3 separate regions of the Homo sapiens genome follow, and regions 2 and 3 are each linked to region 1. The links come from fine-mapping of genetic effects on gene expression. A gene starts in region 1. Each other region holds a variant in brackets. All regions are shown on one strand. Distances are between the middles of the regions. Region 1 holds the start of OPTN (optineurin). Region 2 has its middle 32 kb from the start of OPTN. Region 3 overlaps OPTN (optineurin).

Region 1 (6,620 bases):
TCCAGGACATCTGGGGTAGATCATGGATGTATTGAGATCAGGCTTTCTCAAAAGACAAGAAGAAAGGCTGTACTTCTAAGAGCTGTTGCCAGGAGTCCAGCCAACGCTCCTGAAGGTAGGAAGCCCAAAGGGACTCGTTGCTAACTCCAAACAGAGGAGATTGGGGTGGAAAGGGAACACAAGGAACATCAAACCCAGATTAGGATCTCACTAAAAACCTTCCCACACTGCTCTACATTTACCCACCACAAAACCACATCAACAAATCAGCTAAGAGCATGCTATTATTTCAGTTTTTTCGCTGCATTTAGATTCCATCTACCCATGGAAGTGTGCAGGAAGATGGAGTCACCAAACGGGATGATCCAGGCTAAGAAACAGAACCGGCTCTAACACAAGCAACAGCAACAAACACCATGAGCCAGGCGTTCTTCTAGGTGTTGAAGACGTATTTCCTCTTTAATCTTCTCAGCATCCTTAGGTGAGGGCTGTGGGTCCAGAGGCCTTATCTAAAATTTTTGGGTGGCTGGGCACCGTGGCTCACACATGTAATCCCAGCACTTTGGAAGGCCGAGGCAGGTGGATCACCCGAGGTCAGGAGTTCAATACCAGGCTGGTCAACATGGCGAAACCTCATCAATACGAAAAATGCAAAAATTAGCTTGGTGTGGTGGCACACGCCTGTAATCCCAGCCACTTGGGAGGCTGAGGCAGGAGAATCACTCAAACCCAGGAGGTGGAGATTGCAGTGAGCTGAGATTATGCCACTGCACTCCAGCCTGGGCAACAGAGTGAGACTCCACCTCAAAAAATAAAATAAAACCTTTGGGGCAAGCTCTGCTTTAGAGTCCAGAATTCTGGGGATTTTCAAAAGGCTATTCAATAAATGGGATTTATATCACATAACACCCTGACACTGTCTGACGCAGTTCTCCTATCAACTATTCGATTTTCCTTCACAAAACAAATTTAAAAATCACATCAAGGGATCTAAATAAAGACTGTAAATAGCTTTCCATCAGTTGGGTCTGGTCAGAAAAGAGGTTTGGTCCTTAGAACTTTCTGGATTTGGGAGTGTACTATACTCCCCATTTTACAGATAAAGGGAATGAGGAAGGGTAAGATGAAGTAACTTGGTCAAGGTCCTACAGCTAAGAAGTGGTTGTCGGGGGAGTGTGTGTGCATGTGTGTGTGCAGTGCTTCAGGGCACCCCCCACCCCGACCCCACCACTGAGAGCAAGGAATCAGGAGAAAACAACTTTGACTGCTTTCTGTACCAGAAACTCACCTCGAGCCTCCCACACCAAAGCCATGGGCAGCTTGTGGGTGACCTTCTTCTCTTGGCTCTGAGTTTCACTGATGCTCATTTTAATTCACTTTCATAGTGTTGTTTTGTTCTCGTTTTTGTTTTTGCTTGAGACAAAGTCTCCCTCTCACCCAAGCTGGAGTGCAGTGCTGCAATCACAGCTCATTGCAGCCTCTCCCTCCTGGGCTCAAGCGATCCTCCTGCCTTGACCTCCCAAAGTGCTGGGATTACAGGTGTGAGCCACCGTGCCCCACCTATAGGGTTTTAAACAGTAAAAGGAGCCTAGTGAAGTACGACTTACCGCAGGCACCCCTTACAGGCCCCGGGGGGACCCTTTTCTGCCGATCCCAGGGTACAGCTGTGACACCGTCTTTTCTGCCTGGATTATCCCAGTAGATAAACAAAAATTAGAGATCGTCATTCCATTTCTCTCTGTATATATTTTTCCAAGCCCTTTTCATGAATGATCAGTTATTTCCTGCACTGATTTTTTTTTTTTTTTTTTTTTTTTGAGACGGAGTCTCACTCTGTCACCCAGGCTGGAGTGCAGTGGCATGATCTCGGCTCGCTGCAAGCTCTGCCTCCCGGGTTCAAGCGATTCTTCTGCCTTAGCCTCCCGAGTAGCTGGGACTACAGGAGAGTACCATCATGCCCGGCTAATTTTTGTATTTTTAGTAGAGACAGGCTTTCACCATATTGGCCAGGCTGGTCTCGAACTCCGGACCTTGCGATCTGCCTGCCTTGGCCTCCCAAAGTGCTGGGATTACAGGCGTGAGCCACCGCGCCTGGCCCTCCTGCACTGATATAAAAAGAATTTTTTTAAATTCTCTATTTCTCCCCACTCCCACCCCCAGGCTCACTCCTTATAAAGCAGCCTCTAGCCTCATCTGCCCCTCCTACACCACACCAACTCGAGGGCCCGGAATTGGGTCTGGGGCAGTCGCTGACTTGCTTGCTTCTCTGCCCTGCTCTTGGGGTTAGCCTCAGGGGCAGGGTTGAGAGTCAGGCTTGGCCAGGCAGCAGGAGGTCCAGACAGCGAAGCAGAATCCTTCGGAGATACCAGGAGAGGGCGCATCTGCCTTTTTCCTGTTTCAGATTAGGTTTTGTTGTTGTTGTTTTGTTTTTTTTCTCTCCCTCTCTCCCTCCCTCCCTCTCTCCCTCCCTCTCTCCCTCTCTCCGTCCCTCCCTCTCTCTCTCTCTCCCCCTCCCTCCTTCCCTCCCTCCCATCCCTGCAGCGCTACCCGGGTACTCTGGATGCACATAGGGCGGCTCTCGCTCCTACCTTGTCATCCTGCTGTCTAATCCGGGGGCAGCTTCCCTCCTCCACACCAGCAGAGGCTATTCTTCAGCAACAAGAATAGCCGAGCCTATTCGTCCGCAACAAGAGCCCAAGAAGCATCCTGCAGGCTTTCTGCTTTTTGAGTGTATTTTAAAGCAAAAACGAGTGGAAAGCTATGTATGCTCAGTTAACTATGTCTAGATGTTAACCTTTTTTCAAAAAACACAGATGGAGGCCTCCCTCCGAGGATGCCTGGCATTCTCCTCTTTCTGTGGGCGGCAGCGACCCCCTGCGGCTCCAGCCTCCACTACGGGATCTGCGGGAAGACACGGGGAAGACGAACTCCGCACACTGCATTTGATTAATGATTTATTTTGATTAACGCCGTCACAGTGACGCCTTAGAGCAGTCCCTGTTCACCCGGGTCCCAGCCTCGACCCCGCACGGACAGCGAGGGTGGGTAGCTGGGGGCGGACGCAGGAAAGAGGAGGGGCGGGGCCTTGGTCGGGTGGGGTATGGAATGGGCAGGGTGGGGGGGATGGGCGGGGTATGGGATGGGCGGGGCCCGGGAAATTCCCCGGCGCGGGCAGGGAGCGGCTGGCTGTCAGCTGAGCCGCGCTGGGCGGGGTCGCCAGGCCGCGCATCAGCCCTAGGCACCCCAGTCCCGGCTGCCCCCTCCGCCACCGCCGCCGCCCGCCGGCAGGTTCCCTGGTCAGCGTCCCATCCCGGTCGGGAGTTCTCTCCAGGCGGCACGATGCCGAGGAAACAGTGACCCTGAGCGAAGCCAAGCCGGGCGGCAGGTGAGCCAGGGCAGGGGGCTGCAGCGGTGGGCGAGGGGGCGGCGGCTCCTTCCCGGCGGGCGCTTCCGCGGCCTGAAAACGGTACCCGCCGCCCTGCCCCGCGGCCCGGAGCCTGTCGGGGTGAGGGTGGCGAGGGGTGGGGCGGCCCTCCCGCGAGACGGCTGCCCTGGGAGGATCCCCAAGCCTCGGCGGGTCCTGACCTGGTGGGAGAGGGTGGGTAGTGAACACAGGGTGGGCCCAAGAAGGGTCCAGGGCCGGCCTCTTGGCCGCAGGTAACCCCTCTACAAGTCACCCAGAGACTTGGAGGTGACGTCCTCCCGCAGGCTGGGAAGGATTCCGCAGCCAGTTCCTCGCCATAAGGAGGTGGTTACAGACACGCCTGTGGGAGACATGGGACCACTACCCGAGCTGAATGAGGTGCCCAGGGTCGGTGGGAATCCACATAGACTGCTGTGTCTAGGAGAGTGTGTACACTCTATATAGAGAGAATATTTGATGAGGCCGAGAACCCCAAAGGAATTGTTTTTGCCATCGAAATGCATAAGCTACAGGAAGTAAACATCGCTCAAAGAAAATGAAACCCAGGTTCCGACCTGGCCTCCACCAGCAGGAAAACTGTTGTATGGAAATGTACACCAAGGAACTGTTTGTAAGGATGAAATGGAAAATGAAAGCATAGAAAAGTAAGGCAATGTGAGGACCTCAGAAGCCTTTGGATCTGGTTAGCAAGGTGCAGGCTGTGTGAACAGAAGAACCCACCTTGCTCTTTTGACCCAGGGAGAGAAGAGTTAGTGGTGCCAGGCTGCCTCCCAGGACAGGCCCAGTTTTGGGGCGGGGGCTGGAGAAGTCCCAGGGCAGACCCCAAGGCCAGGGATTGCCCTGGAGTGGACAAGGCAAGTTTAAATGTGACCTGTAGACAGAGGACGATCATTGATTTAAGTCCTGGCATAATTCATCTGTTTTTCCACTGGGCCAATTTTAGGCGTTCTTTATATATTACGTACAACACAATAAAAGTAACAGCTTCTTTTTTTATAAACTAACCTTTAGGTTGCATATTATGCTAGGAATATAACTAACCTAACCTCCACCCCCCCACCCCCCCACCCACCCCCGGAAAACCAAACTTTATTCTCGAGGGCAACTGGACACTGTATTATGTCCTGCCGAACCCCCGCCCTTACTTAGGTAGAGGCGCATAAGTATTCTGGCCATGAAATACACCTTCTGTTTTATAGAGATTTGGCATATTTGATATATGTTCTTTGGAATTTATGAAATAGAAAACCCAAAGGAAAAAGAAAAAAATTAAACTTTTTTTTAAAAAAATATTTCATTTAGAAAGAAAAAATTAAAAGTTTTTGTTATTTCCACTTTGACATGTGTATGAGGAGCATTAGAATCTGTGTTATGAAGTGATACCCAGATGGCTTTGCAGTGACAGAAAACACTTCTAATTTTTCAAATAAGTTAGAAAGGAGGATTTTGAGAATCTGGAAGTGAATGCCGTGGAACTGTGGAGAAACTCCTAACAATACTGGCATGCTGAGTTTGTCACCTACACAGCAGAAAGCATTTTACAGGTATTAGACTTAAAAATACCTCATTATGCTATATTTTCATTTCATTTCAACCAACATTTACTGCAAGCCTGCTATGTGCCAGTCTCTAGTAAGAATAACATGGAGAGAAAATAGACGGGCAGACGATAGCAGTAATTTCAGAATGGGCGGAGGAGGTGGAAATGCAGAGTGTTCTTGGGTGCTCGGAGTAGGGAACAGTTCATATGACACAGGACATCATATTTAAGCTGGACATTGATCTGTCCAGTGGAAGTTTGCCAGGACACAAGGGGAGCCAGACATTTCGGGCAGAGGGCAGAAGGGAGGCAAGGACGCAGAGACAGAAGAATGCAGGGAACCGTGAGCTCTTTAACGTGCCTTGGGTACGAGTGTTTTGGTGGCAGGAGGTGACTCTGGTGGGTCAGTTGGGCCTGGGCCCTGAAAGGCCACGTTTGTCTTGTTAAGAAACTGAAAGTCTGTCGTGTATGGGAAGGGTGGACTCAGGGGAATGACCTCATATTGCAAAAGAAACCATGAGGGCAAGAGGACTGAAATTGACAGGGCTGAAAGCCAGTCATTTAGGAGGCTGTTAAAATGTATTCAACAGATATTTACCGAGTCCTGCCTTCTATGTGGCAAGTAATGTTCTCAGTCCTGGGGATACAGCAGTGGACAAAATAGGCAGAACCCCTGTCCTTTGTGGAGGTCAACATGGCTGTGGTACAGACAAGATAAGGGCCTGAACTAAGCCTGTGGGGATGGAGAGGAGGCAGTGGATTTTAGAAACACTTAGAAGGGCCAGGCATGGTGGCTCATGCCTGTAATCCCAGCACTTAGGGAGGCCGAGGTGGGTGGATCACTTGAGATCAGGAGTTCAAGACCAGCCTGGCCAACGTGGCAAAACCCTGTCTCTACTAAAAATACAAAAATTAGCTGGGAATGGTGGCATGCACCTGTAATCCCAGCTACTTGGGAGGCTGAGGTGGGAGAATTGCTTGAACCTGGGAGGCGGAGGTTGCAGTGAGCTGAGATTTTGCCACGGCACTCTAGCCTGGGCGACAGAGTGAGACTGAGTCTTAATTTAAAAAAAAAAAGAAAAAATAAATATTTAGGAGGTAGAGGTGATGGCATTTGGTGACCCATTAGACTTGGGGAAAAGGGGGCTGGGAAGAATCAAGCCTTACTCCCAGGTTCCTGCCTTGGGGAGCTAGGTTAAAGCTGCTGCCATTTTCTGTATATTACTAAAATACGAAGTCACAATATCCCTTCTAGTGTGTAATGACGAGGCTGCTTTTACCCCATTAGTAGGATGCATACTCTAAGTTCTTTTTCCAAGGTGGGAAGGGTTTAGTCAATGCAATGTTAGAATCTTACCCCCCTTGTGAACCCAAACTCTTCATAGCATTTGCCAGTAGCCAACTCTTGTCTCTGGTCAAAAAGCAAGTTTTCACTGTTTAAAACTCATTTATCCCATGTAGGGATTGAACCTACGAATACTTCATTAGCAAATTTGAAGACTTGGCCATACCAGGGCAAGGGCCTAACCTTATACTATGTGCAGTGTCCACTGGGGGGAAGTCAGTGTAAGGCAGGTACCATTTGACACATTATGACTTTCTGACCACTAGAGCCATCCCACAGTGGAACAGACAGTGCCTGCTAAGGTCACTGCA
Region 2 (6,620 bases), 32 kb before region 1:
GTCACAGGTAGATGAGAGACAAATGGTTACATCCTTTTGAGTTTCTGATCAGCTTTTCCCAAGGGAGGCAATCAGATATGCATTTATCTCGGTGAGCAGAGGGATGACTTTGAATAGAGTGGGAGGCAGGTTGTCCCTAAGCAATTCTCAGCTTGACTTTCCTCTTTAGCTTAGTGATTTTGCAGCCCCAAGATTTCCGAGATTTATTTATTTTTCACACATGTAATAGGATTGGCAAAATATAGCTAAAAATAGTATGTCTAAGTAGAAGTCTTAATGAATACAGATCTCTTTGTTAAATAAGAAGTAATTTTTAATTAGATTAACCTGCCTCTCTTGGTTTCAAACAGTCCTAATCTTCCTAGAGTGCTAATTGTTTATATCCTACAAGGATCTTATGTTTAGTGTTTTTAACTTTTTGGAAGTAGCTGGATGAAATAGATATGGACCTAGGAGAAAAGCAATACCATATAAACACGTCACATCAAAACATCCTACTATTGATCAACTTATTAGCATAAAAATGGTCCAATGGGCATCAGAATATTGAAAAAACAAGGAGATGATGTTGCTGATTCAGGAACTTCTCACTTCTTATTCTTTATTTCTCCTTGGAAGGTAGTTAATGAGATTATAGTTTTAATCCTGGGCATGCTTGGCCACTCTATCTTTAGTATAGGCTTATGGATATTAAGAACGTTCTTGCTTAATAATTACGATATGAAGCTAATGCTGTTTCCTTCTCTTCGATATCCTGCTCATTCCTCAACAGTCAGGGCCCAGGCAATGTCCTACCCCCTCCACAGAATAGCTCCTCCATTCCTGCCCACTTGAACCCACGTTGACACAACTTCCTTCTAAATCCCTGCAACATTCTCTTTGGCATGTATGGACACATTCAATACTTACCAGTTGATGCTGTCAATCATACATCAATGTCATATATATATATCAGTCATTAGATATAAGTTCCATCCAGACAGGAACCGAGTCTCTTTACATTACCAAGTCCACATCACCATGTACAATGATAGGGCACTATAAATGTTTGTTGAATTAATAAGTTCAGGAAAGAATGAGTGAACGAATGAGTGGGAAGTGAGTTGGAAGACCTCTGCAACTGACCAACTCTGCCCTTGCTTAGGGTAATGTTTCTCTAAAAGAGGTCTTTGAATCTTCTGCATCAGAATCATCTGAAATGATTGAGATGCAAAATCCTGGGCTCCATCCCCAGTTCCTTTCATTAGAATATCTGGAGTTGAGCCTAGGAATTTGCAGCTTAACAAGCACCCTAGGTGATTTTTTTTTTTTAGACAGGGTCTCATTCCCATCACCCAAACTGGAGTACAATGGTACGATCTTGGCCCACTGCACCCTTGCCCTCCCGGGCTCAGGTGATTCTCCCACCTCAGCCTCTGAGTAGCTGGGACCACAGGTATGCACCACCACGCTCAGCTAATCAGGTGATTCTTTAGCCCACAAATTTGAGAGCCACTGGTTTACCAGGGTATGTTTTAGCAGATATTTTTTGACTGCTTCATTGGAATAATCTGAATTACACACCACACCTCTCCACAGATTTTATAATTAAGCTCAAACTTGTAACAGTTTGTAATATTCTTTTGTAAGAAATCAATTTTCCTGGAAGAAAGAGATGTTTAGTTTTGGGCACCAGTGTTGTGAGATCACTGGAATTAAGGCAAACAGCAAAACCCATAGTATTTGTATACCATGATGAGACAGCCAAATGCCTAGGCAGATAAAACAGTGTCCCCAGAGAACCTCCGACCCACCCCACAAGTGTTGACATCAGATGCTTTTGTGCAGATGAGGGAACCTGCCCAGGGCCTCGTCTGAGCCTGCCCACACGTGCACTGGGGGAACGGGGTGGAGCCACAGGCAGCGGGAGGAGCCTGGCTCTTCAGTTCTTGTGTGGTGACCTGGGATTCAATCTGTGAGGTGGGGGACTTGTTAGCAGGAAGCCACCTCACTTTGCTGAGTTTTTTTGTTTTTTTCCCTTTTCGCCCAATAAAACCCTCCTCTGCCCACCCTTCAATGTGTCTACATATAATTCTCCTGGTCTTCTGACAAGCTAGAGCCCAGTTTTAGCTGAACTAAGGAGCAAAATTCTGCAACATTTTGGCTCCTAGGTGTGGGGCTTGAGGAGGGGTGGGTAAGATGTGAACCAAAAAATCTTTTTCCCCTTTCGCTTCCAAGCCTTTTTGTCCTTGGGCTTCTTCTGAGGGTAGAGGAAACTGCACACCCCCTCACCCCAATGGCTGCAGGCACCTGCGAGATAGACTGGCGAATGGTGGGTTCCCCGCTCCCCTCCCAGCCAGGGTTGGGGTGCATGGCCCATGGCCCAAGGGTGCCCAATGGTGGACAGCAATTAAGTTTCTCTCCCTGTCGGAGGAACCCATTTGTATAAGAGTAAGAGGTATTTTCCCCAGGCATCTTTCCAACCCTGCATTTTAAACTATTTTTTCCTTTTCTCTACCCTGTCAGCATTTAACTTTTAAGTGAGAGGTTTTTTTTTTCCTTTTTGAAGACATTTTACTAGGCCAGGAATAAGGATCACTGTTTATATTCTCTGTAAAGTTTTAATTATGAAAAAGGATTTGTGAGGTTGGTCTTAAGCTGTAGCCAGTCTTGTGGGCTTTGCATGACTTTCTGTATGGTGAGTAGCAAACCTTGCTGCGGGCCTCCATCTTGTTTTAGGGAGCATGACCTGTAACCACGTGGCAACGTTTTGTCTTAGCCTCCACCATTTTACAATGGCGGCCGGGTTCAATCCTGGCTTAGGGAATAAGTCCTTTCTGGTTTGATATCTGCATGATCTGTTGCTGATTCTCTTCCCCTCCACGAACCACCTTTTATCTTCCTTTCTCTGAGCACCTGGGACATCACCTTTAGCAAAGTTTGAAAGCCAGAAATATTGGCCACTTGGCACGGCTAGTTGGGTAATAAGGCAGTTAAAAGGTTTTTCTCAAAGAGCACTCAGCTTAATTAAAAG[TGGATATCCAA/T]GTTATAAGTATATTTAAAAGGTCTTTACGTTTTTTGTTTGTTTGTTTGTTTTCTTGGATCTCTTTGCTGGAAAAGGGCTTTTTCTCAGTAGACTGAATTATTTTTCTCCATTTTGCCTTGTCACTCTTAATGTATGCATGAGAGGCCCTAAGATAACTCCTGGGGGCATGGGACTCCTTGGGAAAAACAGACAAGGTGCCACTAACCCCGTTTTGGGAAGAAACCTGTTTTTCTCATGGAACCCCGGGAATTAAATGCAGATATATCCCTCTCAAAATCTGTTTTTGCCTCCCAGTCATGCCTATTTTATTAGGCCTTAAAAGCTGCATGTTTTTCTGGCCCTGTCTCTTAAAAGGCAACACCCGGAAGCCAATAATCCAATTAGGAGATTGGCAGACGAAAAATTTCACAGCTACTGCATTTTCTTCTGCTTGTGTAGTTAAATATGTGTCGTGTATGTGATGTCTATAAAAAAGAGCTCTACTTCATTGACTTAAAAGAGGATAAGCACTTGAATCAAATATTTTTTAAAAGGGAAGATAAAAGCTGTGGTACCTTTCAGTTCACATGACTTTAATCCTCGAGGAATAAAAGCAGCCTTAAAGATTATTGGTAAAATGTAGATGTCATCAAAATGTAAATAGGTGATCTAAATTATGCAGGTCAGATATTAGGTTTGCTAAATGTTTTAAGGTTATAAACTGCCTTTTTTGGTTTTTGTGAACAGTTTGACTTGCCTGCTTCACAACTGGTGAGGCCTACAGACATATGGAATAAACCACACCCTTAATTATGCTGGAAGGAGTCAAACCTTGGCTGCGACTTGTACATAATTATAACAACTTACTAGGTTCTACATAAAAGTTAAAAATTGCTGGGAGTTACCATTATAACATGTAACTGAAACTACTGGAAATAGATTTACATGTGAGGTGTATAAGAACAGTAAGATGTGTTTTTAGCAAAAGATGATAAGAAGGCGTAGAAATGTAAATTCTTTCCTAGGCTTGAAGGATTGTTTTGAATTAGATAAGGTAAAGCTGAAGGTTTAATCAAATGATGAAAGGAGTATAAAAATTAATCTTGGCCGGGTGTGGTGGCTCATGCCTGTAATCCCAGCACTTTGGGAGGCCAAGGCAGGCGGATCACCTGAGGTCGGGAGTTCGAGACCAGCCTGACCAACATGGAGAAACTCCATCTCCACTAAAAATACAAAATTAGCTGGGCGTGGTGGCACATGCCTGTAATCCCAGCTACTCGGGAGGCTGAGGCAGGAGAAGCACTTGAACCCGGGAGGCAGAGGTTGCGGTGAGCCGAGATTGTGCCATTGCACTCCAGCCTGGGCAACAAAGACTGAAACTCTGCCTCAAAAAAATAATAATAATAATCTTGCAAAAGAAATTCCATGTGTGAACATATTAACTACATTCAAATGGTTATTATATGGTCTTCTATAAATTCAGCATTGAAATAAAAGCACAACAAGGTACTCTTAAGGCATTAATCTGCTCTTTAGCAAAATTTGTAAAAGGTTATAAAAGGTTTTTTGCTTTTTTAAAATTTCTGAGTCATTATTTTGGCAAAATAAATAATTTATGGCAATCTGGAATTGTATTTCATAACATCAGGTGTTTTAAATTTCTAACACATAACAGACTTCCCAAAATCAAACTTCAGTTTCAAAATTGTCTTTCCTGATGCCTGGCTTTTTGGATGCTACAGAGGGCCCCTGGAGTATCCAAAAGAGAGGTGAACAGGATTATTTGACATGTTTAAGTACATTGGATTGCCAAAATGATGTTTAATCTTCAGGTTAGATTTTAGAGAATTATATTAATATATGTTCCAAAATTGTATGGGATGTCTAAAATTCTAATGTCTGAGTATACGCTATCAATCATAATTAAGGTTATTAAGTTATTGTAAACCACGAAGATAACCAAATTTATTTGTCAATCATGTTTCTGACTATAACTACCCTGGACATTTTGTTATTTACAGATAATTGTCTTATTTTGATCCTCTTCAACAGATGGTTTATAACCAGCTATAGAACTTTGACAGGTGCTCTGAAATGCAGGTTTCTGATAACTTTGGAGATTGTGACATTATTCCAAAGGAAAAACATACAGGACTCATGAAAAGATGAAATGTTTATGAATATCAAGCAAAACAAGAGTTAACTGAACGGTCTAAACTAATACAAAACTGAGGTAATCTTTTGACTTTTGCTTGAAATATTGCTGATCCTTGTTTTGTTTTTCAGAGTCAAGCAAACTTATTTTGAGCTATTTACAGCCTTTAATCATTGAGTAAGGTATACTCCTGTGAACAAAATTTGGAGTATATTTGTCTCTGTCTCTCTGCCTGGCTTCTCCAGAATTTGGAAACTAGTTGTGAGTATTCTTAATTTATGGCCATATAGTTGTTTGCATCAGTGCAATAAGAATCCATTTTCTTTTGCAACAGCACACAATTGGAGAAACTGGTTGCAACAAGACACAATTGGAGAACCTGGTTGCTTTACTGAGGCTTTGACTGGAAAGGTATGCTTCCCTTTAAGGAGTCAAGCTTGACTTGCAGAGTCAATAAAGCCCCATGGGAGAAACTGGCCTCATATCTTCGTACACAGTCCCCATACAGGGTTCCTAACCTGCGGTAGGTAAAGAATGTCACTTTCCAACAGACCCAGGGACCATATCTCTTGAAACCTCAAGAAGAGAGGAGTTTGCCCAACTCATCGGTATTTGAGGATACAAACCCATGACTAGGCTCAGCTTTAAAAGGTCTTATTTGAGATTCTCTGTGGAACAAAGTTCCATGAAAGCCGATCTAAAAGGCCTATGTGGAAATAATTATTCTTGCTGCACTTTATGCAAATAATCGGGCCAAGTATAAGACTAAAGTCTATTTTGCAAACAACCCAGTCCTATCATGATTTGTTTTTAACAAAAATGAAGACTAGAGAAAGAGAAATAATGTTTCAAAACTTATCATTAGGTTCTAGATTCATTCATTGTTTTTAACTTTTTGCCTACATTTTAGACGAACCCTGCTTGTTCCTGTGAACCAAACAGCAATCTCTGGCTGCAGCTCAGAAAAAAACAAAAGGGATGGGTGACGTAAAAATCTGGATCAGTATTCTCCTTCTGAGCAGTTATCCTGCAAATCCTTCCAGGTGATGAAAATAAATAGGATGCCCACCACCCAGAGGTTTCCTTTTTGGGAAAGTAAGACAAAGGGAGCTAACCAAAGCCAAGCCCCATGCGTCCAAATCTTAGCAAGCATAACTATAGCCACCAGTGATCTAGGGGTGTCACAAGACATCCTTTTCTCTCCCTGGTTGGAGGAGGACTCAATTCCACCGCTTCATCTCAGCATTCAGCTTATAATAAGGAGTCCACGCAACCCCCCCTCAAGACGTATTTTTGTCCCAAATTCAATTCCAAACTTCAGCTCAAAGCCCTAGGAAAGAAAACTGGATCTGAGGAATCCAGAGACAGATGATAATGGCAGTTAAAAGACACAGCACAGGTGAGCATGACTAATTCCTGCTGCTTAAGCCAAGCTTCCCATTACACGGATAAAGGTCATGC
Region 3 (5,000 bases), 32 kb after region 1:
TGCATGGGTCTGTTTCTGGATTTTGTTCTATTTTATTGGTCTACTCATATATCTTTGCTCTGGTACCATGCTGTCTTATTATAAAGCATCAAACTTTTTTTTTTTTTTTGAGACAGAGTCTAGCTCTGTCACCAGGCTGGAGTGCAGTGGCACGATCTTGGCTCACTGCAACCTCCACCTCCCGGGTTCAAGCCATTCTCCTGCCTCAGCCTCCCAAGTAGCTGGGACTACAGGCGCACACCACCACGCTCAGCTAATTTTTGTATTTTTAGTAGAGATGGAGTTTCACCACGTTAGCCATGGTGGTCTCGAACAGTTGACCTCATGATCTGCCCAGCTGGGATTACGGGCGTGAGCCACCGTGCCTGGCCAGCATCCATTTGAATGGTTGGATCATGAGTTATGTCCATTTCTCAGTTAAATAAATATTACCAAGCTGTCTTCTAAAACTGCCTAACCAAAATTATACTCTCACCAAAAGATAAGCACTCCTATGTCCTCACATTCTTGCATTATTTTAAAAACCTTGGCCAATCTGATGAACATATTATTTTTAATATAATAATGTCAGCAGTTTGTTATTCCCTACATACAGACTCATTATCACCAGCTGCCCAGAGTGGCTGACCCCTGTGAAATGCAGCCAGTTGACTGGTACTTATAGCTTTAGTTTTATTTCTACAGGAATAGAGCCTCAACCTGCATTCTCAGCTCTTCAGAGCATTTCCTTGCTTGGGTAACTCATGTCATTGGGTTCTTCCACTCTGCTGCAGTCATGTATTTTTGCTCATTCTAGACATAGACATTTGTTTTCTCTTGATGGATACTCTTGCTCATTCATTCAATAACTTCTTTTTTGAGCACTTATAATATGTCAGAGACGGCCGGGCATGGTGGCTCACACCTGTAATCCCAGCACTTTGGGAGGCCGAGGCAGGCAGATTACAAGGTCAGGAGTTCGAGACCAACCTGGCCAATATGGTGAAACCCCGTCTCTACTAAAAATACAAAAATTAGCCGAGCGTGTTGGCGGGCACCTGTAGTCCCAGCTACTCGGGAGGCTGAGGCAGGAGAATTGCTTGAACCTGGGAGGCAGAGGTTGCAGTGAGCCGAGATCATGCCACTGCACTCCAGCCTGGGCGACAGAGCGAGACTCTATCTCAAAAAAAAAAAAAAAAAAAAAAAAAAAAATCAGACACTGTTCTTACTGCCTGGGATATAGGAATAGACAAAACAAAGACTCTGTTCTTACTGGCTCAAAGCTAGTAAGTGATAGAAGTGAGACTAAATCGAATTTAAGTCATACTCCAAAACACCCATGATCCACTGCCAACACTGTGAGATGCTGAACCACTCACATTGATAGGATATCCCTTAAAATGATCTCTTTATTACATACTTTTAAGTAACTATAGTTTTGATAGAATATTTAGATTTTTAATTTTACTTTTAAAATAATGGATAATAATTTATATCTCAGAACCAGCAAATTTGAAAAGAAAAAACTAATTTTAAACATAGAAAGTGAAAAATTAGTATTAAATTCCAATACCAATGGAACAGTTCACTCAATTAGCTGACAGCATTAAATATTAAAACACTATTAAGTGTTTTGTTATTTATAATTTTTTAAAAATTACTTAATTTTTAAAATGTTGTGTTGTTTTGTTTTTTGAGGCAGGGTCACACTCCTGTCACCCAGGCTGGAGTGCAGTCGCATGATCGTGGTTCACTGCAACCTCTATTTCCTGGGCTCAGGTGATCCTCGTGCCTCAGCCTCCCAAGTAGCTGGAACTACAAGTGCATGCCATCATGCCCAGCTGATTTTTTGTATTTTTAGTAGCGATGAGGTTTTGCCATGTTGCCCAGGCTGTCAGCAGGAG[G/T]CCTCAGTTCCTCACCATGTGGTCTCCTCCAGAGGGATGCTTGGGTGCCCTCATGTCATGGCAGCTGGCTTCCCCCAAAGCAAGTGATCCAACAGAGAGCAAGGAGTGACAGCGTCTTTTGTGACCTAGTCTCAGAAGCCGTACACCATCACTTCTGCGGCATCCTGGAGGTTACACAGGTTGGGTTTATTCATTGTGGGAGGGAAACATACAAGGTGATGAATACCAAGAGGCAAGGATCACTGGAGCCATCTTAGGAGGCTGGTGACCACACATGGGACATGGATTGAATATGGAAAAGTTCATGGGAAATGGTCTTCTGTCTGGTTCAAATGCTGATTTGGCCACTTAACAAATTTTCCCAAGATTAAGAGCCGTTAAGTTTGTAAAATGAGGATAGCCATTCTTTATTCTCAGGATATTTCATAAGGTAAAATAAGATAGTAAATGTAAAGCACCCAACATAGGACCTCACACATGTTTGGAATTTAACAAATAGCATCTATTTGTGATGATTATTCTTTTAAATTTAGCTTAAGACCAGCCTTCATAAATACACCTGGCAGAATCAATTTACTATATTAAGTAATCATTTACTATATTAAGTTGATCCTGAATTGTTTATTATCTAAAAGTCCAGATAATTTTGCTGAATTAATGGTACCTACAGTATTTAAACTACCTATATCAGTGCAGTTGCAGGATTTGTGTTGTTTAAAGCACACACACAAACACAGCTTGTATCTGCTATCGGAATGTACCTGGAAAGTCATGGTCATTATACTGTTTTCTAGCAGGATTGTGCATCTGTGATTCACAAGGGCTATTGAAGGATACAGCACTACCTCCTCATCGCATAAACACTGTAAGAATCTGCATTCATCTAGGTACTAACTTCTGTATCTTTTTTTCCTCTAACAGATGGAAGTTTACTGTTCTGATTTTCATGCTGAAAGAGCAGCGAGAGAGAAAATTCATGAGGAAAAGGAGCAACTGGCATTGCAGCTGGCAGTTCTGCTGAAAGAGAATGATGCTTTCGAAGACGGAGGCAGGTAAGGAAAAGAGAGAGGAGGACCCAGAGCTCACATCAGCATGGCCGTAGAAGAGGTGCCTGTCCAAAGACGTTCCTGATTTGAACTATAAGAATAGCTGTGTTCGCGCCACTGCACTCCTGCCTAGGTGACAGAGCGAGTCCCCTGTCTGAAAAATAAATAATAATAATAATAATTGCTTCACTTACACTTCATGTGATCATGTTCCCAACACTTAGTTTGTCTTACAGGAAAGCTTGACAGAGACTTGTGGGAGCTTGATCAAGCTCCTTGCTTTTAGATAAGCAAGGATTTTGATTTGATTTTAAAATGTTGTGTTGTTTTGTTTTGTTTTTTGAGGCAGGGTCTCACTCCTGTCACCCAGGCTGGAGTGCAGTGGCATGATCATGGTTCACTGCAGCCTCAACTTCCTGAGCTCAGGTGATCCTCGTGCCTCAGCCTCCCGAGTAGCTGGAACTACAAGTGCATGCCACCATGCACTTGTAACAATAATGTTACGTGTCCCAATGACCTATCTTGCCATCGTCACGGATGAAATATTCGTAGCACTTTAAATTCCTGAATATTCTTTAAAAAATACTAACAAAAATTACTTCTGACTTTTAGAAATTTATTTTGAGAAAGTTTTAAAACACAGCAAAATTCAGAGAATAAAATAACAGACTCTACTATGTACTCCTTCCTGCATTGACAACTGCTTTTATTTGCTTCAAGTATTTTTTTTTTATTAAAGGAAAAAGGGAGTTGTAGTTAGAATCAAAGTCTCCTTTGTTCCCCATCCATCATTATATTCCTTTCTTCTTTACCTTGTGCTGTTAGGAATTTGGTGGGTAGCTTCCCCATCTATTTTATACTTTTACATATCACATACACACTTACCTATATCATATCTCAAAACCAGATAATATTGATTTCTCTGTGTTTAAGTTACAAAATGATCACTGTAGGTATTGTTCTGCAGCTTACTTTACATAATATTATGATTTTGAGCTCTCTTGATATGTGCGGATGTAATTTATTATACTTCATTGCTGTATTTTGATTTATAAATATGCCACTTCTTTCTAATCTGTTTCCTACTGATGACAGTTTGGTTATTTCCTGATTTTTTTTAACTGTAATTATTTACTTTCACTAGTCTCCTAGTGCCAATAGTATTTAAAACTAAAATTAGTCTGGTTTTTATGAACCTTGGCAGTGTAGTTTGAGTCTTTTTTCCCCTACTTCTGTGGACTGTCTGCTCAGTGTTGTCATGTTTCGGGGTTGTAGAACATCACACAGCGTGTTGCTTTTCGTCCTGGCAGGCAGTCCTTGATGGAGATGCAGAGTCGTCATGGGGCGAGAACAAGTGACTCTGACCAGCAGGCTTACCTTGTTCAAAGAGGTGAGTCCCGTGTGATCCTGGATTTTCAGGAAATAGCTATCCTATGAAAAAGATGCTTGAAGAAAAATTCCACTTCATTCTCTACAATGGATTCCAAATCAAGGCACCAAAAATATAGCACCCGTCAGTCTCATTACCACAGCACTCCCATCTCCATCCATTACCCACCGAATCCAGACCAGACCCTTCACCCTGCCAGAAGGTGCCTGGCACGGCCACACTTTTTCTTTTTTTTCTTTTTTTTTGAGACAGAATTTCGCTGTGTCGTCCAGGCTGGAGTGCAGTGGCGAGATCTCGGCTCACTGCAACCTCCACTTCCTGTGTTCAAACGGTTCTCCTTCCACAGCCTCCCGAGTGGCTGGAATTACAGGCGTGCACCGCCACACCCAGCTAATTTTTGTATTTTTAATAGAGATGGGGTTTCACCGTGTTGGCCAGGCTGGTCTCGAACTCCTGACCTCAACTAACCTGCCTGTCTCGGTCTCCCAAAGTACCGGGATTACAGGCGCAAGCCACTGTACCCGGCCTACAGCCACACTTTTAAACCGTGTCTCCCTCTGTTCTCTTACAGACATTAGCCAGACTGAATCATCCCCTTGAACTTGTCCTAAGCTTGTATTTGCTTGTATTATGCCCTTCACAGAGACGCCCTTTTCTTATGCATATTCCTGTCTTCCTCCA

The links. PIP is the estimated chance that this variant, and not a neighbour inherited with it, causes the effect.
Region 2: its variant is the best candidate, but not a certain one, in a credible set for the expression of OPTN in aorta (GTEx, PIP 0.79).
Region 3: its variant is the best candidate, but not a certain one, in a credible set for the expression of OPTN in spleen (GTEx, PIP 0.58).

What each region holds. Positions count from the first base shown.
Region 1 is chr10:13,096,918-13,103,537 of GRCh38, forward strand. OPTN (optineurin) reads left to right here and starts at 3,246. Exons shown (of 15, transcript NM_001008212.2): 1 at 3,246-3,385. It also overlaps a transcript of CCDC3 not described here. RefSeq lists silencers at 2,522-2,581, 3,052-3,621 and an enhancer at 3,902-4,031.
Region 2 is chr10:13,064,865-13,071,484 of GRCh38, forward strand. It overlaps a transcript of CCDC3 not described here. Among named protein-coding and RNA genes, the nearest start is that of OPTN, 32 kb to the right of the region's middle. RefSeq lists enhancers at 1,348-1,862, 1,863-2,376. The variant TGGATATCCAA/T (reference allele first, on the strand shown) is at 3,014.
Region 3 is chr10:13,129,263-13,134,262 of GRCh38, forward strand. OPTN (optineurin) reads left to right here. Exons shown (of 15, transcript NM_001008212.2): 13 at 2,805-2,935; 14 at 4,240-4,319. Among named protein-coding and RNA genes, the nearest start is that of MCM10, 30 kb to the right of the region's middle. The variant G/T (reference allele first, on the strand shown) is at 1,884.